Homo sapiens: one gene and its partners. The protein of the gene in region 4 purifies or fractionates together with the protein of the main gene of each other region. This does not show direct contact. Each region holds a gene or a part of one and is shown on either strand. Other genes may lie near its edges. The genes, in order: QSOX1, ACP7, SERPINB8, SSUH2, PLA2G4E, RAB18 and GBP2.

Region 1 (3,500 bases), on a different chromosome or scaffold from region 4:
AGCACTCTTCTCTACCTCCCTGCCAGGGAGCTCATCCAGTCCCACAGCTTGAGCTCTGATGCTACTAATGACTATAAAGCTAATCTCTCTATTCCCCACCTCTCCCTGGAACTCCAGACTCAACTGTGCACACCTCCATTGGGAGGTCTATTGACACAAAGCGGGCCATTGATTCCACCATCCCAACCCGAGCCCCTGACTCCTCAGCTTATGGGACCATCATCCACCAGAGGCTCAGGCCCCACAACCCTGGAGTCCACCCGAGTCCTGCTTCCCACATACCCTTCCTCCAATCTATCAGTAAGTCCCTCAGCTCTGCCTTTAACATATCCCCAAATCTGACCACTTCCTCCAGGGGCACACTGACAACCCTAGTCCAGGCCCAACCACCACTGCTGGGCGAGCATGCAGCTTGCTCCTCAGCTGCCCTGCCTCCCCCTGCCTGCAGTAGCCCATCCTCCACCTTTCTAAAGTGTTAACCAACTGTCACTTCCGTTAGCCTCTCCAGTGGCTTCTCAAAATGCCAACACCAACCTCCAAACCCTGCCCTCGCCAAGGCCTCTGAGCCCATGAGCGCTCACCTCCGCCCCCGGCCTGTCTCTGCAGCCTCACCTCCCTCCCTCCGGCCACAGCAGCCTTCTTTCAGTGCTGCCCACACACCAGGCTTGTCCTTTGCACCTGCTGGTCTCCAGCCTGTGCTATGGGCTGAATTATGTCCCCCCAAATTCCTATGTTGAAGCCCTAATCCCCAGCCTCTCAGAATGTGGCCGTATTTGGAGACAGGGTCTTTAAAGAGGTAATGAAGGTAAAATAAGGTCATTAGGGTGGGCCCTAATCCAATAGGACTGGTGTCCTTGCAGGAAGAGGAAATTTGGACATGGATTGGGAGAGGGACAACTGCACGGAGACACAAGGAGAAGACGACCACCGCCCAGCCAAGGAGAGGCTCGAAGAAACCAGCACAGACACCTCCACCTTGCACTTCAGCCTCCAGAACTCAGACAACAGACGTCTACTGGCTGAGCCCCAGCCTGACATTTGTGAGTGCAGCCCAAGGACACCAACACAGCCTGGGAGACTCTCTTCCCAGACGTCCCACACTGCCTTCTCCTCTCCACATGGGTCCCAGCACCGGGCCCTCCACAGGGAAGCCTTTCCCAGACCCCTCTCCAGACAGCACCCGCTCCGGCACTGCTTTGCTTTGTCTTCCTCAGCATTCGTCATCATGGCTGAAGCCATCCCTCTGTGTCTGTCTCCTGCCACTCAGATACTGGCCCTGTGGGGGCAGGGACCTGTCTCATATGCTGCTGTGTCCCCGGCACCTGCAGCGCCACATGGCATGGTGGAGATGCTCCATACACACTGGCTTCCCACACCACTGCCTGGCAGTTCCTCTGATTCACGGGGCTCCACACAGGCTGCTCCCTCTGCTGGGATGCTCCTCTCCTGGCGGAATCCCTACTCACCCATCACCCCTCAACTCACCCCGTAAGGCCTCGGGCCCCTTCCCAATGGCGTCGAGCCTGCCCTCTCTTCACCCCACATCTTTCTCTCCACCACGGCCCTAGCCCTGATGCACTGCAGGCCTCTCTGTCCCCCTGCCTCACACTAGAGGTCCACCAAGAGCGGGCACTGTCGCCCTTTTCACCCATGTATCTATCCTCCAAGCCAAGCCGCAGCCTGGTATAAACCTGGTTCCTCAATCAGTGTGGACTGAATTGGATGCGCATCCTTTCAGTCTTCAAAAGCAGGTGTGGGGCAGCGTGGCCGGAGAACATGGTGGTGCAGTTTGTGGACAATCCGAGGCAGCAGGGGAAACGTGTTTCCCCAACTTCCCCCAGGAAATTGTTTTTCAGTGGGAAGTGCAATAAAATTGCTCAAAGCACCTGCTATGTATCAGCTATGTAAACTGTAAAATACACGTTTTTTTCTTTGTTAAGAGTATAAAAAAATAGAATCACAATTTTTTCATGAAGACTGAAAGCAAAGCAAACTATAAGCCCGGAGAAAGACAGGGAGAAGCCTCAGCCCCAGAGCTCCCGGGGCCGAAAACAGGACTGGTTGAATTCCTAAAGTCTGCTCCCTCCTGGGATTGGTTCTATTCTGGCCGTGTGGGGCTACCTGCAGATAGAGCAATCCAGCCAGAGCCCCAAGGCTGACTCTCCCCATCTTCTGGCAGCTGGGAGCCAGTGGGGCAATTCAAGGGAGCTTCCCTGCCCCCTCTCCCCTTGGAGGGCCGAACAGAGCAGGGTTGGAGGCACAGTGGGGTGAACGGGTCCTGGACGTACCTGCTTCCTGTGAGTGGTCTACATTTTGCCGAGCTGCCTGCACAGTCAAGAAGTGGAAGAGGACCCACAGGGAGCAGGGAAAGCCCCGGAAATGCGGCTCACTCCCCTGGCAGCCAATCCAGTTCACCTTCTTGGCAAGAACGGCACCCTGAGGGACACATGAGTGTGAGTGCACATATGGAGAAGGAAAAGGATGGGAGAGGCAGAGACAGAAGCTTCTAGGAGACAGCCCTAAGACAAATGAGGTCCCTCAGTCTATCACCTCGAAGGTGGCATTTCCCTTTCACCAGTTCCACCCACTGAAGCAGCAGCAGACCTAAAAAGCTGTGACCCAGATCAAGCTGCATCCCGTTCCAGCCTCAACTTCCCCAGCTGTAACACAAGGGGGTTATCTCTGAGGTCCCTTCGAGATTTGACACCCTACAAGTCTACAGGGTTTTACACCTCTGCTGGCTGCAGTGACCCACTTTTGCAAATAGCAGCATGAGCAGGAGCCCAGAAGGTGCCCTGGAGAGGGCCAGGGAGGCCATGCTGAGCAGCACCACAAACTAAGAGGCAGCACAGGGTAGTTGTTAAAAACTCTGGGGTCTCACCAAGTTTTCATCCCAGCCCAAACACTTACTGGCTCCATGAACCCAGACAAGTTGCTTAACCTTTTCAAAGTACTGTTTCTTCATCTGCTAAATGGGGAGAATATCTACCTTCCACTAACATTATGAGGATTAAATGAGATGTGCGCATAGAGAGCTCAATCAATAGTCATTTATTGATTATTGTTAGGACCCAACGAAGATCACTGACTCCCTGGTGCAAACTGGCGAAGAAGGTCAGAAATGACAGGGTTAACCCCTTGCACTCTCATAAATACGGAGGATGGAGAGATCTTTATTTGCTTCCCAGACTCACCTCTTTCCTGTCGTCCAGGGCAGTTTTAAAGAAACTGTAGGGAATTTTATTTCTCTTCTGCCTCTTGAGCCATTCATTCACGGAGTGCAGGAAGTTCTGGACTAAGGGCCGGCCAGGGAAATACTGTGGGGAGGAACAAGCGGAAGCTGGAGAGTGAAAAGCAATTCCCCAAGTTCCCCGTCCTGCAGATGGTAGGAAGCTATGCAGAAGAAGGCGGGGGGCGGGGGGCGGGGGGCAGTGGGGAGGAGGTTGTGCAAAGTTCCAAAACCACCAGGAAAACATTCTAACTAAGACACAAATATGACT
Region 2 (4,108 bases), on a different chromosome or scaffold from region 4:
GTATCACAATAGCACTGGTTTCCTTTGTATTTCTGTGTATTTATATTATGCATGTAACGACATGATCCTGAGAAGGGCTTGACCAGCTTGCCATAGGCATCTTTAGCACAAAAAAGCTTAGGAACCTCCCATTCTGGACGAACTAAGAATACGGGGAGGTTATAATTGGGGGCCACAGGAGTGGCAGGTACTCAAGTTTGGTTATGAGAGCTACTTTCATTATATTTTAGGCTGTAATGGAGACTCTGGAAGTGGGAAGAAAAAAAAAAAAACTCAAACAGTGCAAAGGGCTCGTTTTGATTTTCCCACACTCCTAGTGCCAATTTCTGAAATTGGTGTCCACAATCAGTAGAAGCCTATGTGCTCTGAATTTACAAAGCCAAGTGGTGGCGGGTCATTGTATCTGCAGTCAGGAAGGGGAAACGACTGGAAATCCGGGCCCCCCCAGTTCTTCCCTGCTTCTCTTTTTGTGGCAGCCGCTCCTCACGTTCAAACAGATTGCAAAGGTTTACAGGGGAGAACCCTAACTTGTTCCCTAGACGTCAGTTTCTGGAGTTCCTGCATTAATACGATTAAAAAGAACAGCTGATTCTTATCCAGCCCTTACTCTGGGCCGGGCCCTGTTATCGGCATGAAATTTCATGCAGCAACTCGTTTACTCCTCACAACAGCCCACGGGGTATATACGAGCATCACCTCCTTTTTACAGGTGAAAAAACCCAAGGTCCAGCGAGGTTGAATAACTCACCTAGGTCGCACAGCTCAGAAAGCCCACTGCAATTCCGGGATTCTGGTTTTGTTTTGAGGTTGCCCCGGGCTTCTGAGGAGGGGTCAGTGGGCTCAGCATGGAAAGGAAGGAAGCCGGAAGGCTGGAGGAAGATGCAGCGAGGCTGGAAAGGTTGGGGATCCCCCGGTCCTGCACACCTGGGTACCTGGGGATCGGGCAGGGCCAGGATAGGGGCCGGTGTCCGTGCCCTGGGGCTCCCCAGCTGATGAGTGGGCGCCTGAGGGACGAGCGCAGGGTTACCTGCCTGGGCTCTCACCTGGTGGCCGGCTCAGAGGTGGCGCGCCGGAGACGTATCATAACCTTCCTGGGTCCCCCTTCCCGCGCCACGCCCTGGTGGGGTGGGCGGGTGGGTGTGGGGCGCCCAGGCAGGACCGGCCGGACCTGTGGGACCCGGGGCCCTGGCTGTCTAGGGAGGCTGTCACCCCGAGGCGACCGGCTCTTCCGGGGCTGGGACGGCTGTAGGCGGCAAGAGGCCTCGGCACCCGCGAACTCATAAATACCGGGGCGGCGCTGGTGGCGGGAGAGGCGCGTGCGGGCAGCCGGCGCCCCCGAGGGTGAGCCGGGGTCCGGGAGGGCGTCCCCTTTCCCGGATGGTCCCGACCCGGCTCCATCCTGGCAGCTGGAGACGGAGCTGGAGCAGGCGGGAAAGCGCTGGAGAGAAGGGGGGTGGGTACAGATGGGGGAAGGGCAGGGACGCTGGGGATGGGGAGAGAGGATGCGGCCGCTCTGGCCATGATGGGCTCTAAAGGATCTGGGGGTGGTGTGGGAGGATTGGGGTCACTAGGAGCAAAATAGAAGGCTAAGGATGGAGTAGGGAGGCGAGGTCCCGGGGGCAGGCGGGAATGCTTGGAATCTCGGGAGTAGGTAGGAGAACTGGGGTTTCTAACAGCAGGATGGAAAGCTGGGGATGGGGCTGCGGAATGCAACCTCCTACACAGCCTCCACCCCGCTCCCAGACCCCCAGCACTGAGAGTGAGCTCTGGTTAGGAGCAAGGCTCTGGAATCAGGCCCTCCTGGGTTCAAATCCTGGCTCCATCCCATCCTAGCTGTGCAGCTGAATCACTCAGCTGCTCGGTTTCCTCATCTGTGATATGGGGATGACAATGCTCACAGCCACCACTTCATAGCAATGTCGTGAGGCTTCCGTGAATTAATCTATGTCAAGCGGTTGGCACACTGTGAGTGAGGCTCAGAGAGCTCTGCTGCTGTTCCTTAGCGATTCTTATTTTTGGTTTCTCTCTCCAGCACCTGGATAACCACCCATCTTGAAGGAGACCTCCCTGCCCTGCCTCTGTTGTCCCCCAGAGCACTGCCTGATCATCCTCTGTTCCCCATCCTCCCAGCCCTTCCTGCTGTACCTGTGGGGAGCTGATCTCCTCAGTCCCCCTGCTTTTCCCCGGTCTGCCATCACCACCCCACCACCATGCACCCCCTTCCTGGCTACTGGTCCTGTTACTGTCTACTCCTGCTATTCTCCTTGGGAGTCCAGGGGTCCCTGGGGGCTCCCAGCGCTGCCCCAGAGCAAGTCCATCTGTCTTACCCAGGTAAGTGTCCCTGACTCATTTCTATGCCTCTACCAGAGAGGCCCAGCGGTGCTTCGTTGTTTGAGGGCTCAGGAATCCCACACTGTGAGCCCCTAGGCGGGTGGCTCATTCCTCCTGAGCCTCCATCATCCACCTCTGTGGAATAGGAAGTACAGGCTGTGGAACACCTGGAAGTGTGGGGAATGATCATGGTGCTCAGCCCACAGAGAGTGCTCCCCTGCTCTCAAAAGGGGACCGCTGCTGTCCTTGTTCATTGCATCTCTGTTGTGTTTCCGGGACCTGGCACGTTTGTTCGTTCATGCACGGTAGGCCTCAGAGCCAGTTGTGGAAGGAACCAGTGGATGAATGATAACAGAGCTGGGTTACCCAGCCCCTTCTCCATCCCTCTTCTCCTCTTCCCCACGAGGCTGACTGCCTCCCGATCTTTGATTAGGATCCTTCCACTGTGGGAGTAAGAGCTTGGACTCTGGACCATTGGCACCCAGACCACGTGGGTTAGAATCCCAGCTTTGCTATGTACCTGCTGCCTAATCTTGGGCAAGTGGCTTAACCTCTCTGTCCTCAGTCTCCTCATCTGGATAATGGGGTAATATTAGTACAACCTCATGGTGAGGTGTAAATGAGTTGCTACCTGTAAAGGGGCAGAACTGAGGCTGAGTGTGGGGGCTCACACCTGTAGTCTTAGCAGTTTGGGAGGCTGAGGCGGAAGGATCACTTGAGCTCATGAGTTTGGGACCAGCCTAGGAAACATAGTGAGACCTCTGCCTCTTAGGGAAAAAGAAAAAATCTTAGACAGGTGTGGTGGCATGCACCTATAGTCCCAGCTACTTGGGAGACTGAGGTGGGAGGATCGCTTGAGCCCAGGAGTTCAAGGCTGCAGTGAGCCATGATTGGCCACTACACTCCAGCCTGGGCAACAGAGAGAGACCCTGTCTTTAAAAAAAAAAATGTGGAGGAGGCCAGGCACAGTGGTGCATGCCTGTAATCTCAGCAATTTGGGACACTGAGGTGGGTGGATCACTTGACCTCAGGGGTTCAAGACCAGCCTGGGTAACATGGGTGAAACCCGGTCTCTACAAAAAAATTAAAAAATTAGCTGGGCATGGTGGCTCACGCCTGGTCTCAGCTGCTTGGGGAGCTGAGGCAAGAGGATCGCTTGAGCCCAGGAGGCAAAGGTTGCAATGAGCCAAGATCATGCCATTACACTCCAACCTGGCTGACAGAATGAGGCCCTGTCTCAAAAAAAAAAAAGGGGGGGGGGAGGGGGATAGAACGGAGCTTGGCATGTAGCAGCAATTTCCATACACTTTAAATCTCAGGACTGTTTGTTTTAAACTGTTAATCTCAGGACCATTTTACATCACTAAATTTTATGGAGAACTAAAATTTATGGAGAAGTTCAAAGAGCTTTAGTTTATGTGCATTACAGCTAGCAATATTTACTAAATAAGGTATTAAAACTGAGGCATTTAAAATTTTTTATTGTCATTTAAAATTAACAATAACAAACACCTTCAGTATTAATGTATATGATATTTTTAAGGAACAAACTGTATTTTGCAAAAGAAGAAATTGAGTGAGGAAAGTGGCATTGACTTGCATCTTTTAAAAATCTTTTATTTATTTATTTATTTTTGAGACAGGGTCTCGCTCTGTCAACCAGGCTGGAGTGCAGTGGCACAGTCTTGGCTCACTGCAGCCTCTGCCCCGCAGGGTTCAAGTGATTCTCCCACCTCAGCCTCCCGAGTAGCTGGGATTACAGGCACCCACCACCCCA
Region 3 (2,794 bases), on a different chromosome or scaffold from region 4:
CTGTCCAAGGTTGCCCACAAGTGCTTCGTGGAGGTCAATGAGGAAGGCACAGAGGCTGCCGCAGCCACTGCTGTGGTCAGGAATTCCCGGTGCAGCAGAATGGAGCCAAGATTCTGTGCAGACCACCCTTTTCTTTTCTTCATCAGGCACCACAAAACCAACTGCATCTTGTTCTGTGGCAGGTTCTCTTCTCCGTAAAGAGGAGCAATTGCTGTACATACCCTCCTTTCCTTCTACCTATCTTGCCTTAATTAACATTCCCTGTGACCTAGTTGGTGCAGTGGCTTGAATGCCAAAATAAAGCGTGTGCACTGGATAGTGTGTGAAAGTCTTTGCTGAAAGTTCCAGAGCCATTGAGAATAACTGAGGCCGCAGATGCATGAAATTTGGGCCTGGGAAGGCTATGCTGGTTTTGGAGTGTTTGGGGTGCCTGCCATTGCCTCTGCCTTCACCTAAGTCTGTGCCCATTGTTTCAGGGGATCTTATGGAGCATCTCAGGGCTTCAGGAGCCAGCCCTCTTCCATCCGCCCGGCTCTGCCCACCACCACTGCCAGGCTGAACAGGGGACTAGTGCCCAGGTGACACTGCACACAAAGCCAAGGGCAAACCCTATAGAGTAAAGCTGCAGCCACCCTGTGTCTCATGTGCAGCTGAAATAGTGATCTGCTTCTGTCACTGTCACATAGACAGCCCTGCATGCCCCCTGTCTCACACAGTTTGTAATGAAGACAGCTCCTTCTCATCTTTCCATAAGCCTGAGATACAAGTTCAGGGACTCAGCAATGCACTTTAGGACTGAGCTAGGAGGCAAATATCTGAAGCTTGCTATGCTGTTCTTTCCATTCCTTTTCCCTCTGAAACACACAAAATACCAAAGGAACTTACGCAACACACCACTGAGTCCTCTAACTAATCATATGTGCTCAGACACAGCTCAAGCACACCCCTTAGTTAAGAAAGAACCTCCATATACATTAATTTTTTTCTGCCTAAAAATAAAATTGCGTTGTGGCAGCAATTTGGAAACTACAGCAAAGTCTCCAAAAAAATTGAAGTCACCCACAATTCCAACACACAGCAATCACTGCTGTTAATAGTGATATACATCCTTCCCTATTATGTGTATGCAAATAGAAATTTATAAGCATTTTACTACAAGTTAATCATATCCTTCAGTAGCTTATTTCTTCCCTTATGAAAAACCTCCCTTAAGATCTTTCCAGGTCATCAATTTGATGTGCATAGTATTCCACTGTGTGGCTGGATTTCTATAATTGAATCTAATTTTAGACAGTTTGAGTAATTAAAATTATTTCTATTAACAAATAATAGATTGCTAATAATATATATTATGCTGTTTTGGATATACTAAATATTTGCTCACATCCTTAATATATTTTTTAAAATTCCTAACAATAGTACTGTTGAGATAAAAGTTGAGCACATTTTGAGACTTCTTCCAAATTGGTCCCTAGAAAGTTACACTGGTTTGTACTCTCACTTATGTCACTGTTTATACCACCACTGACTGCTGCCTGCTTTATTATTTCTTTAATGAGTTGGACTGAACAGTGGTTAATCCTGACTCTGTTTTTGACTGACAGTTAACAGTTACATGAACCATTCATATTACAGCTCTTACTTAAATTTGACCAAGCCAGGATATATCTGTTAGGCCACATTCATTTAGGGATCATGTTTTCCAAAGCAGGTTTGGGCAAAATTAATCCACAGGACTGAAAGGTATACATCTGTGAGTTTTGTTCTCACTTCCACCTCTAATTTGAAGAACACTTTAATTGACACAGAATACATTTCACATATTTAACCTCTACAATAAGTTCTGACACATTTTCCATGAAACAAACCATCGCTATATTCAAGATAATGAACCTATCTATCATACTCCCAAATTCCTTCTTGCATCTTTGTAATTTCTCACTCTTCCTTCTCCCTCTCCCCGTCCCATCCCAACCACTGATCTGCTCAGGCAACTACCAATCTTCTTTCTGTCACTATAGATTAATTTGCATTTTTAAAGAAATTTACATACATGGAACCATACATCATCTATGCTTTGTAGTATGACTCCTGTCACTCAGTACAATTATTTTGAGATTCATTTATGTTATTGTATGTATCAATAGTTCATCCCTTTTATTGGTAAGTAACATTTTTTTGTATAGGTATACCATGATTTGTTGATGAACAAATTTACCTGTTGATGAACATTTACGTTGTTACCAAGATTTTTGCTATTGAAAATAAAGTTTTTATGAATATTTATATATATACATCTTTGTATGGACATATGTCTTCATTTCTTTTGTATATAGATACATAGAAGTAGAATGGCTGGGTCATATGGAAGGTGTAAGTTTAACTTTTTAAGGATCTGCCAAATTGCCTTTGAAAGTGGTTGTATCATTTAACATTCCCAGTAAAGCCTAGGAGAGTTCTGGTTTTTCTCTCTTCTCACCAATACTTGGTACTACCAGTGTTGTTACTTTCAGCGTGTACCGGCTTTTGGTTGCATTTCCCTAATGCCTAATTATGTTCAGCATTTAAAAAAATGTGCTTAGGCCGGGCGCGGTGGCTCACGCCTGTAATCCCAGCACTTTGGGAGGCCGAGGCGGGCGGATCACGAGGTAAGGAGATCGAGACCATCCCGGCTAAAACGGTGAAACCCCGTCTCTACTAAAAATACAAAAAATTAGCTGGGCGTAGTGGTGGGCGCCTGTAGTCCCAGCTACTCGGGAGGCTGAGGCAGGAGAATGGCGTGAACCCGGGAGGC
Region 4 (3,500 bases):
GTGGTGTGTCTGCAGGTGCGGTGCCCATCCTGCTGCGGAGCCAAGCGCAAAGCCAAGCAGTCCCGGAGATGTCAGCTGTGCGCGGGGTCCGGCAGGCGAAGGTAGGGGCATCTCCCCAGCACCGCGGTGAAGTGCTCTTGCTTTCTGGCTTTTCATTGCCTGCCCATCTGGAAGGCAAACAGGAACCCATCTGTCTCGTCACTGCTGTGTCCCCAGAGCTCTGCACGTAGTAGGTGCTCTGTGGTTATTTGAAGAGTAGGTGAGCTTTTCTCAAGGCCTGGCATTTCTGGACAAGGCTGGAACTCGTCATGCAATATATGTGGAAAGAGTGTGAAGAAAGAGCCACTGCAGGGAGGAAACACAGGGACGGGGTTACCAGGAAAGGAGACCTCTCCCGCCCACGGGTTGGGAAGTGAATATCAAAAACCACCTAAAGGCCAGATTTTTAACTCACTGAGGATCAGTTCCTGGGCAAGCCCCTATTTATAACTCATTTTGGGGTCTGAATGGAGGAGGAGTCAAGGAAAGTTGGTTGATTGACTAAACAATAAACAAAATTTCATCACTGCTCACAGCTTTGCAAACACTGGGCCATTGCATTTTGTAAATCCTATCCTTTAGTGTATTTATAACTTTTTAAGGGAAACAGGAAACCGTGAGGAGTAAAAATACTCAAGGTTGGGTTGGTTAATGATACTTTTGCCTCATTAAAGCCCAGGCCATCCTTCTGACAAGCCAGTTGGAGAAGCTTTGGTGGCACCTTCCATCGTGGTTGGTAGAGACAGTCTCTGACTGGGAAAAAGACACTTATTTTTCTTTCATTTGCAAGTGAAAGGAATCCAATTCAAATTGGCTTTGGCAAAAAAAGTCGATTTACAGGCCTAGGTAAGAATGAAGTCCAGGGGTATATTTCAGGGATGGCTTCAGGCCCAGCTGGATCCGGGTGCTTAAACAACACCACCAGGAATCTGTATCCACCTCTCACTCTGCTTTCCTTTGTGTGGGCTTCATTTGCAGGCAGGGGGTTCCTTGTAGTGGCAGAGGAGATCACCAGTAGCTCCAAGCTTACTAATCCCAGGAGAAAAGATGTCCCTTTCCCGATAGTCCCGACAAACATCCTGGGACAGATCTCATTGCACTCGCCTGGGTCATGTGCCCATCTTTGTATCAGCCACTGAGACCAGGGACATGGAATAAGATGATTGGCCAGTCCCAGATCCCAAGCTGTTCACAGAATTTAGTGGTGGGGGAGGGGGGGGGGCAGGCCCTAGAGCCATGTGGGCTGGGTGGGGGAAGGGTGATCCCCATAGAGATATTGGGGCACTGCCAGCAGAAGGAGGACTAGGTGGTGGGCAGGTACAAACAATGCAGGCCCACCACAGTCTACCTCCAGGAGGAAGGGGGTGCAGGTGGGAGCCTCTGGAAGCCACCAGGACCTGCAACTGATCTGGGGGTACGGACTCTGTGCCTTTCTCAGATGCAGCACTTGCTCAGGGAGAGGGAACAAGACCTGCGCCACCTGCAAGGGGGAGAAGAAGCTGTTGCACTTCATCCAGCTTGTCATCATGTGGTATGTGGCAGTGTCTCAATGCTGTGGCATGCGGGGGTGGCTGAGGGACTTAGCCCTGGACTGGCTTCTGCAGAGAAACTGTGGTTGGTTGGGGCTTTCACAGTGCAAGAACCTGCCAGGACTTAGAAGGGGGAGAATTCCCTTGGAAGAGGCAGTGTGGGGTTGTGGGATGCTGACTGGCTTTAGAACAGACAGACCTCAGTCCAAATTCTGCCATCACCACTTTCTAGGGCAGCAGCCGCTCCACAACTGAGCCCTTCCCGTAGGAATAGAGCCATAGCATCCTGCTACGTCCCTAAGTCAGTCAGGGCTTCCGTGCATTAAAGGTTTCTCCTGTCTCAGGCACCTTGCTAAGTGCTTTGTAGGCAAAGATGAAATGAGGTAATGGAGCTGAACTGTCACTCTCCTTACTAGCTTCATTTTACAGGTGAGGAGACTGAGGCTCAGAGAGGCTACAGAACTGTTGCAAGGTCCCTCCAGTAGCAATTCAAGCCCTCAACCCCAGGTCTGTCTGATTGCAAAGGCCATGCTTTTAACCTGCCACACTGTGTGCTTTCATCCCTCATCCTCCTTCCCTCCAGGAAGAACAGCTTGTTTGAGTTTGTGTCTGAGCACCGGCTCAACTGCCCCAGGGAGCTCCTTGCTAAAGCCAAAGGAGAAAACCTCTTTAAGGATGAAAACTCGGTGGTAAGAGGGCATTGTAGATGGGAACAAAGGAAGCTGGGTTCCTCCTCTGCTCTCGTGGGCCTGGGGCTGCTAGCTGTGTGTGCAGGCTGCATTCCTTGGAAGGACAGGTTGTGTAGGAGCAGAGCTCCCCAGACATGGATAAGGCTGTGGGGAGCCTGGGGGCTGTCAGTTTCCTTTTGACTTTTACACACTCAGCCCTCTGTCCTTCCCCACCCACCATGCCGTTCTTCCTTCCTAATACTCTCTTTCTCTCTTTCCCTCCCTCCCTTCTTCCTCGCTCTTTTCCTTCCTTCCTCATCCCCTCCTTCCCTTTCTTCCTCATCCCCTCCTTCCTTCCACAAATCTTGAGACCCTCCTCCTATATCAGGCACTATTCTTGGCCCTGGGTAGACCATGGCAAATAAAACAAGGACCCTGCCCTCATAGAGCTTACAGTCTGGTGAGGGGACTATGATGGACCCTTTTATAGCAATGTCAGATGGTGAAGGGGCACTGAGAAACATTCAAGCAGGGTAAGGGGCAGGGAGGGGTGGCAGTGTCGTTCCAGCTGGAGGTGGGAAAGCCTCTTTGTGGAAGTGACCTTGGGCACAGACCTGGATGCAGGGCAATTGGGGAGTGGACCTTGTGGCGTGGGAGCGAGGGGACAGTGGGGCAGAGGCCTTGAGGACTGGCAGAGGGCAGTGAGCAGGGCAGAGCTAGGAGCTCAGAAGTGAGAGGTACCTTCAGCCAGAGGAGAGGGTCCTGCGGGCCAGGAGTTGGCACACCCAGCCCACTGCCTGCCTTTGTCGATAAAGCTTTATTGGAACACAGCCCCACGCATTTTCTGACAGGTTGTCTATGGCCGCTTTCCTGATGGTGGGACAGAGCTGGATAATGACAGACTACATAGTCTGAAAGCCTGAAGTATTTACTATTTGGTTCTTAGCAGAAAAGGTTTTCTCACTCTGCCGTTGGCCTTGGCAGAGAGATTGGCTTCAATGGGACTTCTGATGGGGGTCCTCAAACTATAGGGAGGTGTGTCAGCCTCCTTTCTTTGCTCCAGTAATTTGGCTTTTTAAAGGCTCACCTCAGGCATCCCCCCACCAGAAGCCCTGCACCCCACTCTTCCATTTGAGTTAGGGATTTCCCCCTGGGCTCAGCTCAGACTGAGGACCATCCCTAGGCGTCACTGGCTGCTGGCAGCTCTGTGAGCTGACCCTGCCTGGTGCTGAGCTCTGACCACCGTCTCACCCTCAGCGTCCAC
Region 5 (3,500 bases), on a different chromosome or scaffold from region 4:
CTACCCCAGGCGCCACCTCCATGGATGCTTTTACTGCTGAGGTACAGGCGCCCTGGTGAGAGCTGTGCTGGAAGTGATTCTGTTTTATATTCACAAGAGAAGGGGAGAGCAAAATGGAGACAGAAAGGACAGAGCCCCAGCGCCTCCTCCCAAGCACTAAGAGTTCCTGCTGTGGCTAAAGGGGCCTTACTCAGGGATAAAATGCCCTCCTCACCCCAGCCAGGAAAACATTTTAAGCTGTACCACCTTCTGCACCCCACACCTCCACCCAAAAGGCCTTAGGTCCTTCTTTCCTCAATTGTCTCTCCTCTCAAATCCGCACAGGTAAACACACTCCCAGAAATAACAGCGCTAGGAAGCTGGAGAGAAGCAACTTGCACTCCTAGGGCCAGACCGCCCCTTCTTCCCACGGGAGCAGACGGTGGGCCTCTGTCACAGCCCTCTGTTGCCTCCCTTGTGTGGACCAAGGCCCACACTCGCCTGGGCAGCAGGCAAGCCCTCCAAGCGCCTGCTTTCTGAGGCTGACCCTAGGTGAGGACAGAGACCTGGCGGGTGCCCGAGGAGGACTTGTAATAGCGCTTTAGCCAATGGAAGGTTCTTACAGCCCCCACTCAAAGGAAAACAGACAGAATGAGTCTTGACAAAGAGCCCCTTCCTCCCTCCTTTTTTTTTTTTTTTTTTTTTTTTTTTTTCTTGAGACAGGGTCTTGCTCTGTCACCCAGGCTGGAGTGCAGTGGCACCATCACAGCTCACTGCAGCCTCCACCTCCCAGGCTCAAGCAATCCTCTTACTTCAGCCTCCCAAGTAGCTGGGACTCCAGGAATGAGCCACAATGCCTGGCTAATTTTTGTATTTTTTTGTAGAGATGGGGTTTCTACATGTTGCCCAGGCTGGTCTTGAACTCCTGGGCTTAAGCAATCTGCCCACCTCGGCCCCCCAAAGTGCTGGGATTACAAGTGTGAGCCATTGTACCTGGCCCTATCTTTAGGGAAACATTCCAGGGGCCTCTTAAACCTCTGCTGACCCAGAGCTGGCAACCCTGCTCCTTCCCACATCACCAGTCCATTGACTCTTGGCCTTGCCAGTACAGTACCTGCTGAGCAGGCACCATGTGCCAGGCCTGGTGCCTTCCCTCAGATCCAGCTACAGAAGATGTTGGTTTGTCCCATTGAGGGATCGCACATTAGTAGGGTTCTTGAACAAGCTGCCCACCACCCTCGGACCCCAGTTTTATCACCTGTTAACCGAGGGCTAGACTAACAGTGCTAAGAACTCTGCTAGCCACAGCTTTCTGTGATTTACCAAGCCTGTGTTAGGCTTCAGAGTCCTTCACTGACACCAACTTCTGGGTGTGGAGCTGAGGTCTATTTCTAGACCCACTGCTCTGTGGAAAGGCAGGTGTCAGGTGGCTCAACGCCGCACTCCCTGCCCTCTGTAGCCAGCTCTGCCTCCTCCATTGTTCTTTCAAAGTTGCCGTCATTCTAAGTCTTCTCCCAAGCTTTGCTTCTGGAGCCTTCCCCAACCGCCTGCCTCTGTGTAACCCCAGGTGCCGCTGATAGCCATCATGGCCACTGGGGGTGGAACAAGATCCATGACCTCCATGTATGGCCACCTGCTGGGGCTGCAGAAGCTGAACCTCCTGGACTGTGCCAGCTACATCACCGGTCTATCAGGGGCCACCTGGTAAGGAGACATGAGCCACTGTCTGTGGAGCCCAGGGCAAGCCACGAACAGGCTGGCCTGGGGTCTCAGGTGAAGCTCCTCCCCGCCACCCAAAGACAAAGTGACTCCTGAAGCCTGGGAAGTGCCCCACATGCAGTGGTGTGGCCTTGGGCATGCAGCTTGACTCCTTGGAGGCTCGGCTTGTGTATCTGCACAGTGCGGATAACAGTAGCTCTGACCTCATGCGGTGGGTGTAAGACGCTCTCCCGCTACTAAGTATGCCAGAGACACTGTATGCCCTGGCCTTTCCTGGTGTTACTGTTTCCCTGGGGCTGTGGTATGGACCCAGGAACATGACCCCATACTGCTGGGGACATGCAACGGGCAGGGCCCTGCAGCTGAGCTCCCTCCTTCTCACCCTCTGCTGGTGAGCAGGGCCAGGGGCTGAGCACTGGGTTCCCCCACAGGGAGGCCAGGGTGAGGTCAGCTTACCCACAGAAGGCACAGTGCCTGCGGCTCACTGTACTTTTAGGGGCCCACAAAAATAGGTTAATTTCTTTTAAAATCAGGATCATTTCATTAACAAACTTATAGGTTGAAGAAAATGTTTTAATAAATAATATGAATACATTTGTCTTTATACAACAGTCATGAAATATAAATTTTAATATTTTTTATGTGGCCAGCATGAAATATAAATTTTAATATTTTTTATGTGGCCAGGTATGGTGGCTCACATCTGTAATCCCAGCACTTTGGGAGGCAGAGGCAGAAGGCTTGCTTGAGGCCAGGAGCTCAAGACCAGGCTGGGCCACATAGGGAGGACTTGTCTTTAAAAAAAACAAAAATAAAAAACATATAAACATTTTTTGTGGGGCCCATCAAAACCCTGCGTGGCCCTGGTTCAGGGTGGCCTATCAAGCAGGGCCGTGTCCTGTCTGTGACTGGTGGGCCTGTGAGCCCTGAGGTCCCTTGCTGTGCCTTGTATACTGGAGGAGCTCTGGGTAGCCCCCGTGTGAGCAAATGGATGTGAATGGGCCTTGGAAAGCCAAGGGCTCCTGTGCCACACACCCCCCCGGGGGGCAGAGGCGCCAGCCCAGGTGAGACAGAAGGAGACATTTGCCTCTTGCTAAGCACTGGAGTCACTGCTTCCTATGGCTCATCTTGTTTCTTCCTCACAAAAAACTATGAGAGAGGCATTGTCATTATTTTTCAGCTGGAGAAACAGAGTAATTTGCCAGGGACACTCAGTTAATGAGCAGTGGAGTAGAATTTGAACCTAGTCCCGGGCCCACATCCTTAACCTCCATGCTAAATGGCTGCCCCCGGTAGTAGGTTAAGAAGGTAACTTGCTTCCAGCAGGTTGAGGGGCACCTGCGTCCTCCCGGACTACTATGCGATAGACAGATAGCAGGAGGAACTCAGGCCCAGCCGGGGTGGGATGGGTGGGGTCCCCTGGCCTGGGGAAAGCACAAGTCGTATTCTTTTAAAAACTCATTTGCAATGGCTTCTGGAAGCTTTTTTAAAGTATAAAATGAATGGGTGAAGCTTATGGAGAGCAGGGTGCTTTTTGTTGAAAAGTCTCCTGACCACCTCCCACCTTCCCAAAAGCAAGTCCTGTGAGGGAGGAGGCCCCTGTTTCCTTAAATGTGCAGCCGCAGACTAGCTGCACTGCCAGGGAGGTCATTCTCAGGCGCAGAATGAAAAGGGCCCTTTCCTGTCCTGACGCAGAAAAGCTGGATCCAGGCCAAGAAGAGGCAGACTGAGGCCAGACCCAGGGCTAGTGGGATCACCTCTTTGTTTTGCTCCCCCCGACAACCAACATGTAAGTTAAGAAG
Region 6 (3,500 bases), on a different chromosome or scaffold from region 4:
AAGCAGTTTTAGCATGTGAGATCTGAAGAGCTCAATTGCTGCATGTGAGATTCACCAGAGGAACCTAGGGAAGATGACTGGGGACTTTAGGGGTCTGGATTTAGATTAGGTGCCCCTTCAGGCTACCTGTGTCTGTTGGCTTTGATGGCAGGACGACAGTGTTCAGTGTCTCCTGTGGATGGGTATTGGTAAGTTTCAGATATAATATGTCAAAAGCATAACTTAGAGACATTGTTAGTTATCCACATGCAAATTATTCTTATGTCAGAGACAGTCATTAGACTGTTCACAACAAACTTGCAGAACCAGGAAATAATAATAGAGAAAGAGGAGTTGGGGTATGGGAAGAAAACACATACATTCTGGAAGCGGTGGGTTTCTTTTCTTGGGTAAACAAATTAGCTCATAGGAAAGATGCTTGTCTGCTCTTGAACATGTATCTGGGATTATTAAGGAAAAAAATTAGTTCTTTATATACTCCCTGAAAAACCTTGAGAATTTAACTGTAGAGTGTGCATGACAGAGGCTATCTCTGTGTAGTGTCTGCCAGTGGCTGTCATTTAGTACCTGCACCAAGTCAGAACCATTTTCCTCCTCTGAATTTTCTCAGGGTTTGTGCTTTGCTTTTTTTTTTTTAAAGCAATAGGAAGAAAATGTAGATAATTTCATGTTGTTTATGTAGATGGTTCCACTTTTAAAATGGCATAGTAACTTCTTTATTTAGACCTGGTTAATACAAGATTATTTAGCATGTGGGATTTTTTGTTTGTTTGGCTGTGAAGAAATTTTATATTTAGGTTTTTGTTGGGCTATGTAATCAACACTGTCCTTTTACTAATGGTTGCCCATCATTCTAGGCTTTATCAACTCCTTTATCACCCCAGCTCAAAACACCAAACTTAAAAATATATATATTTGGTATACAGAAAGACCTGGCATAATGCACATTTTGAATGTGCATTTTTATTACTGAATTTGTATATGTAATGGATCACCACAAGTCTTCCAAGAATTACAAATATATTTCCATATTGGTGACAGGTGTTCTATTAAGCATTTAGTATGTGAGGGTGCTGTTCATCTTAGTTGGGGCTGTTCTGAATTAATTGTGACAAGCTAATAAGATATTTTGAAAGTTTCTTTCCAAGCTTCTTGAGCTAATGTTTTCCCTCTGGCCAGTGGGGTAGACTGAACTCTTGAAAGACATGTGGGCAGTTGCTGTTCATTTAAGCCAGATGGCATGTGTCAACTCCTTTTCCTGGAAAGGGAGAGGTTTCTTTTTTGGCTGCTGTAATAAAGCCTTGTGGACTTCTTATGAAACTCTTTTCTTTACATAAATTAGTACTTATAGAAGCTTTTCATAGAACTTTGGGCACTCCTCTTTCACTTATGAAGATTCTTAGATGGTTGTATATAAATGTTTTCATGTATAAATTGTTTTATTGAAATTGTGCTGTAGCAAGTTATTGATTAGGTTATTACATAAAAATAGTATTTTTTTAGGATAAAAATAAAGAGATTATATGACAAGGAGTGAGTGGCCCTTTAATATTTTTACCGGTTCCCCAAGCTGCTTACAGTCAAGATCTGAGTTAGTGGTTGGCTGGCAGTGGACAGCACTCTTAACAGTAGCATGTGGATGCTTAGGGAGCCCCTGGAAGCTGCCATGACCCACAGTCAGCCATGGATAGTCTTCTTTATGTGAGCATTGTAATTGCAGCTCTTGACTTTTAACACGCATAGTGAGTTATCACCTTAAATTGAATTTCGTTTTTCCTTTTTGGAAGAATAGAAGGTAGGTGAGTGAGTGAATTCTACAAGCATTTGATTTTCATTTATCCTGATTAAATCCTAAGATCCTGGATTTTAATGACACTTTTTATCTCCACATCCAGAATTCTAAGAAGTTGGGGTGTGAATTGGGCATTTGATAATAGTGACTTTTCTGTTTTCTGGTTTTCTTGGTAATGGATTTTAAAAGTCTGTTTTACTGGGAGACTTATCAAAATTTTCATTTCTTTAAGGTGTTGACTTTAAGGTGAAAACAATTTCAGTGGATGGAAATAAGGCTAAACTTGCAATATGGGTAAGAGTTTTTAAAATGTATTTTTAAAATATTAAACTTTACTTTTTAAGGATGCAGAAATTGATTTGTGTAGTGTTCTAGAGGTGGTGAATGAACAATTTGTATTAAATAACTTTTGGGAGATTTGATACTGATTAAAGGATAAACAGTAATGTCTTATAATTGGGTAATTAGGCAGCTATGTTTTGTTTAAATTTTCACAATGCATAATTCTTTATGAATATTTCAAAACAGAACAGAATATTAAAAAATCATCTCATCTGCCAAAGAGAATCATAATTGGATATGTTTCTTTGAAGTTTTAAAAAGACCATCTAGACTGAACTAACACTAAAGACAATTTTTAAGGGGAGGAGGAATGACGTGATATTTAGGAAAAAATTTTATTTTTCTTGTTTGTTAGTATAGATATTTATAAAATTTGAGGTTTCAAACTTTGGGCTTATTTTTAATGCCTCGTTTTTCCTTACTGGCTTCTTTTCGTTTTCCTGTCAATCCAACCATTCTGATCCCCGTTACTGTACTAGCTAGACCGCTCATGCTAGTGTCAAATAAGGTAGCATTAACTGTCAAAAATATCCAAGATGCTTAGTGTCTATGTTTGTCTCTCTCTGTGTCTCCCTTTCATCAGTCTATTTACCCACCCACATACCGATCTATCTATATCTGTCTATCTAAATATGATCGGTTATATATATATATGTATATTCTAAATATATACTGTTTTATATATCTATTTTTCACATAGACTGTGATAATTATACATATATGTTTGTAATATAAGAAATCATATTAGAACTGATCAGTCATCAAATCGAGACTTATTTCCACATGGTGGTTAAATGGTAAATGCTGTTTGTACATCAGTCACAGATTGAAAACAGCAAGTGTTCATGCATTGTATGATGTCATATTTCTTGGCATTCTCTGAATGGCACACTGTTTCTAATACACATTTATCCCCAAATAACAAATAATTGTGTAAGTGTGTTTAATGTTTTTATGTCAGTTTTTCCTAACATACAATACTTTAAATTTGTTAACCTGTTTGCCCCTTTCCCCCAAATATGTTTAATATCAATCAGAACGGTAATGTCTAACAGAAAACAATTTGGAAAATGTTGGACTAGAGTATGGTAAAATGTGTTGAACGATATAAGAATGTTGGCTTTTTCCATACTAAAGTGGGGGCCTGATTTCCATATGCTTTTCATGGTTAATTTATTATCCCTTTCCGGCCTTGCTGCTGCTTTGTGAAATCCGTAGATTAGAGTAGTATCTGAGACTTGCTGGTTGCAGTGAGATTTTTCTCTCATAGTTTCGTTTTGTTTTAAATTTATTTTCTAGTTCCTGCCTAATAAAAAGGCTGGCAGGTATTATTGAAGAGACATTTTTACCATAGGCCTATAAACAT
Region 7 (3,500 bases), on a different chromosome or scaffold from region 4:
CCATGCAACAATCTGATGATGCTTTGGAATTCTGCTTACAAAAGTCATCTCGCCTTGCTTCCAACTGGGCCTGTGAAGTGACAAAACAGCACAGATGTTTCAGTAAAGCCATGAGGAGGATGTTAACTATGTGGAGACTGGAAAATGCTTCTCCTTCAGAAATTGTGGCCCTCTAAATAGGGCCATGCTCCTCACATTGCTGTTAGATCCTAGAATATCCCTAAGTTGTGCTTATTGCAGAAATTTATCTACTTCTCTGTTTGTGATTTCCTAAAGCTCCTTTCTCCCAGTTTTCCTGTTTCAGAGAATGATTCTCAAAGCACATACACTATTTCATACGAAACTTTTATCTTTCCAAGTCTCTCATTTCAGGAATAGTTCTGAGCACAAACACTGGAGTCAGGCAGCCTGCCTGGAGTTCCCGGATACACTACACTGTGGCTTGTGACACTCAGTCTTTGTGAACTGAGGATTCCTTGTCTGTGCAGCAGAGGAACAATACCTATCTCACAGATTTCTCTGCAGGGTTATATGAGGTGATGTAAAGTATTAAGCCCGGGGACTTTTTAGAAGTGCTCAGTAAGGAGTACATGATTATTTAGTACATTCTTTAACATAAGAATATTTTTGTGTATTTTCTCAGCATAGGGCTAATGAAAGTAATGAAGATTGTGCCATAGGTATTTTCAGTATTTGGAAAGTCTCATAGAACAGCACATTTATCTACATTAAATCACTCAAGATAACTTAACTATGAAGCTTTCTCTTTCCTCCTTAGGTTGGAAGGGTGACAATTGCTGACATCGGCTATCTAGCTTCACCAGAACCTCTGACTGTAGCAACGTATCATTTATAAGATCCTGCCTTCCTAGCTAGGGAAAGGACTTTCATTTGTCAAGTGGTCATTCTGCATGCAAAAATACTTTGTTCACTTGGAATGAGGCAGACATTAAAAACATTCTCTAATAAAATTTATATAATTAATTTCTCTTTCTTGGCCTTCTGAATATTTTACCATTGGCTCACATTTAAAAAAATTATTAGGGTTATTTAAAAATAATTTAGTCCCCACTGATAATTACCAGGGAACATAAAAACAATGTATTTTTTAATTTAAAAGGACAAAATAAGTTAAAATAGTCTTTAACAATGCAGTTGTACCATCTACTTACTTTCTTAAAATATGGGACCCAGAGAGGAAAAACTAACAAAAGCAAATTTTAGTAAAAAATTAGGTGTCTTTTTTTAAAGGTCTAAGGCTATGCACATTCTAGTCTTTTAATGATTATTTCAAATATGTACACATAACTGAGTGTAACTATTTTGGGGTCTAGAAAGAATTATTTTCCCATGAAGGGCCCATATTTTTCTGCCTCTCATGACGTAGAACACCAAATATACCCCTAATTTCCTCTGGAACATTTGGTCCACATCCTTGAAAGAGTTCTTCATGAAGACTTCAATGGCCTCTCTCTCACTGTCCCTGTGCAGGTCCAGCAGCTCCTGGAGGGTTTCCGTGGGCAGCTGCACCTTCTGGCCCATCTGCTGTTCATAGTGGGCAATAGCCTTTTCCACTGCGGCTGAGTTCTCTATCTGGGCCAAGGCCAGGACTGCGTTCTCCATGCAGGGTAGATCCCCACTGCTGATGGCATTGACGTAGGTCAGCACCAGGCTCTCTAGACCTGCAAAAGGGAATTTTTAAAAAAATGTGACTATCAGTTGGTGGGACAGAATATTTTGTGTGCTTTTCAAGTGAGTGTCACAAATAATACTTTTAAATAAGTTTTGGATAAAGAATAGTAATGGAATAATTTGTTAACCTCTAATCACAGAGGAAATTGAAGTGGCTCTTTCCTATTTCCTTCACCCAAAAGGAAGATATTGAAATGAATAGGTTAGGATATTTTGGGGCTGAGATACTAGGTCAATGTGTTTTCTTACCTTTCTTTTCTCTCACCTCTCCCTCTATTCCCTTTCTCTCTTCACTACTAATTTATGAAAAAAGTCAATGAGAAAACTTAGCCTTTTTATTTTTATTAATTTTAGTGGTGCAGACCACTAGTCACTAGTCTGGTGTCTGGCTTAGGTAAATATGTCTTCTTAGATATTCTCTCATCAGAACTACAGATAGGATAATCAACTCATCGAGTTTGCCAGGGCTTTGCTGGGTGTAGCACTGAAAGTCTCACATGCCAGGAAAACCTCATCTTAGGCAAACTGGAGTGGTTGATCACACAACAAAAGATGATTCTTTTTGACTCAATCCTGGACCTTCTCATCTCTCTGCGGTTTTAAGTACCATCTGTATGGATGGCTGGTGTATTTTGTTTCCTGCTTTGACATTTCTTTTAAGCTTTGGATTAAAAATAAGTTTTGCACCTTATTTTTAATGCCTATCTTATATTCCTTACTGCATAAATCAGAAGAATCTCAATATTAAATAATCTAAATATCAAAACTTCATCCACTCTGAAAAACTATTTCTCCTCTTGATGCTACTATCTCATTAAATAACACAGCCATTCAAGCAATTGCTAAACTCGAAACGCTGGAGACAGGCTTGGCATTTCCTTCTTATTCCCTTCATAAATCCATATTCCCTCTATCAACAGGCCTTTTAGATTTAATATCCAAAGTATGTTCGGATCTTGTCCATTTTCACCATTTTCACTGTCATAATCTGAGACTAACCCAATGCCCATTTATGGCTCAACCACTGCAAATAGCATCCATCCTCTCATTCCCTCCCTTTCACTACTCCAACAAATTATCTACAAAATATTCAGAAAGATATGTATAAACATAAATTAGATAACCTTACCTCACTGCCAAAAATTCTTCAAGATCTTCTCTAGAGCTTAGACAAACTCTAATCTCCTCAAAGTCCTCTGCCAGTCCTTTCAAGACCTGACCCCTTTATACCCCTCCAATTATGACACCACTCTTATTCAGTCTTCTCTTGTTCCAATCGCCTGTCTTTCTTCTATTTTCGTTTAAAAAATTGAGATGGAATTCTGGTCTGTCACCCAAGCTGAAGTGCAGGGCATGATCATAGCTCACCATAGCCTTGAACTCCTGTGCTCATGCTGGGTCCTCCTGCCTCAGCCTCCTGAGTAGCTAGGACTCTGGGCAAGCACCACTGCACTTGGCTGATTTTTAATTTTTTCATAATGATGAGGTCTTGCTACTTTTCCCAGGCTGGTCTTAAACTTAAACTCCTGGGCTCAAGGAATTCTCCCACCTTGGCCTCCCAAAATGCTGGGATTACAGGCATTAGCCTCCTGTGTTCTATTTTCTTGAAGTTGCAAAGTTCTATCCTGCCCTATGCATTTCCACATTACATTATTTGCTATAAAGCTATTCCTCTATATGCTTTGGTTAGCTCTTAACCATTTATTTAATATATATATATATTGGAGACAGGGTCTCACTCTGTCTCCCAGGCTGGAGTGCGGTGGTGCAGTCTCCGCTCACTGCAACCTCTGCCTCCCAGGCTCAAG

The links.
Region 1: the proteins of SSUH2 (region 4) and QSOX1 purify together in Homo sapiens (affinity purification with mass spectrometry; one large-scale study listed by BioGRID and IntAct). This does not show direct contact.
Region 2: the proteins of SSUH2 (region 4) and ACP7 purify together in Homo sapiens (affinity purification with mass spectrometry; one large-scale study listed by BioGRID and IntAct). This does not show direct contact.
Region 3: the proteins of SSUH2 (region 4) and SERPINB8 purify together in Homo sapiens (affinity purification with mass spectrometry; one large-scale study listed by BioGRID and IntAct). This does not show direct contact.
Region 5: the proteins of SSUH2 (region 4) and PLA2G4E purify together in Homo sapiens (affinity purification with mass spectrometry; one large-scale study listed by BioGRID and IntAct). This does not show direct contact.
Region 6: the proteins of SSUH2 (region 4) and RAB18 purify together in Homo sapiens (affinity purification with mass spectrometry; one large-scale study listed by BioGRID and IntAct). This does not show direct contact.
Region 7: the proteins of SSUH2 (region 4) and GBP2 purify together in Homo sapiens (affinity purification with mass spectrometry; one large-scale study listed by BioGRID and IntAct). This does not show direct contact.

What each region holds. Positions count from the first base shown.
Region 1 is NC_000001.11:180,189,369-180,192,868, reverse strand, and holds part of QSOX1 (sulfhydryl oxidase 1 isoform a precursor), read right to left. Parts: intron 3,318-3,500; coding exon 3,195-3,317; intron 2,437-3,194; coding exon 2,289-2,436; intron 1-2,288. UniProt on the Homo sapiens protein: Catalyzes the oxidation of sulfhydryl groups in peptide and protein thiols to disulfides with the reduction of oxygen to hydrogen peroxide. Plays a role in disulfide bond formation in a variety of extracellular proteins.
Region 2 is NC_000019.10:39,083,060-39,087,167, forward strand, and holds the start of ACP7 (acid phosphatase type 7 isoform 1 precursor), read left to right. Parts: upstream 1-1,308; 5' UTR 1,309-1,341; exon of another isoform or gene 1,342-1,453; intron 1,454-1,486; exon of another isoform or gene 1,487-2,032; 5' UTR 2,033-2,210; coding exon 2,211-2,331; intron 2,332-4,108.
Region 3 is NC_000018.10:63,987,081-63,989,874, forward strand, and holds the end of SERPINB8 (serpin B8), read left to right. Parts: coding exon 1-198; 3' UTR 199-2,294; downstream 2,295-2,794. UniProt on the Homo sapiens protein: Has an important role in epithelial desmosome-mediated cell-cell adhesion.
Region 4 is NC_000003.12:8,624,299-8,627,798, reverse strand, and holds part of SSUH2 (protein SSUH2 homolog), read left to right. Parts: intron 1-15; coding exon 16-101; intron 102-1,477; coding exon 1,478-1,570; intron 1,571-2,151; coding exon 2,152-2,257; intron 2,258-3,500. UniProt on the Homo sapiens protein: Plays a role in odontogenesis.
Region 5 is NC_000015.10:41,993,543-41,997,042, reverse strand, and holds part of PLA2G4E (cytosolic phospholipase A2 epsilon), read left to right. Parts: intron 1-1,546; coding exon 1,547-1,683; intron 1,684-3,394; exon of another isoform or gene 3,395-3,485; coding exon of another isoform or gene 3,486-3,487; intron 3,488-3,500. UniProt on the Homo sapiens protein: Calcium-dependent N-acyltransferase involved in the biosynthesis of N-acyl ethanolamines (NAEs) in the brain.
Region 6 is NC_000010.11:27,524,804-27,528,303, forward strand, and holds part of RAB18 (ras-related protein Rab-18), read left to right. Parts: intron 1-2,024; coding exon 2,025-2,086; intron 2,087-3,500. UniProt on the Homo sapiens protein: The small GTPases Rab are key regulators of intracellular membrane trafficking, from the formation of transport vesicles to their fusion with membranes.
Region 7 is NC_000001.11:89,112,615-89,116,114, forward strand, and holds part of GBP2 (guanylate-binding protein 2), read right to left. Parts: intron 1,683-3,500; coding exon 1,402-1,682; intron 71-1,401; coding exon 1-70.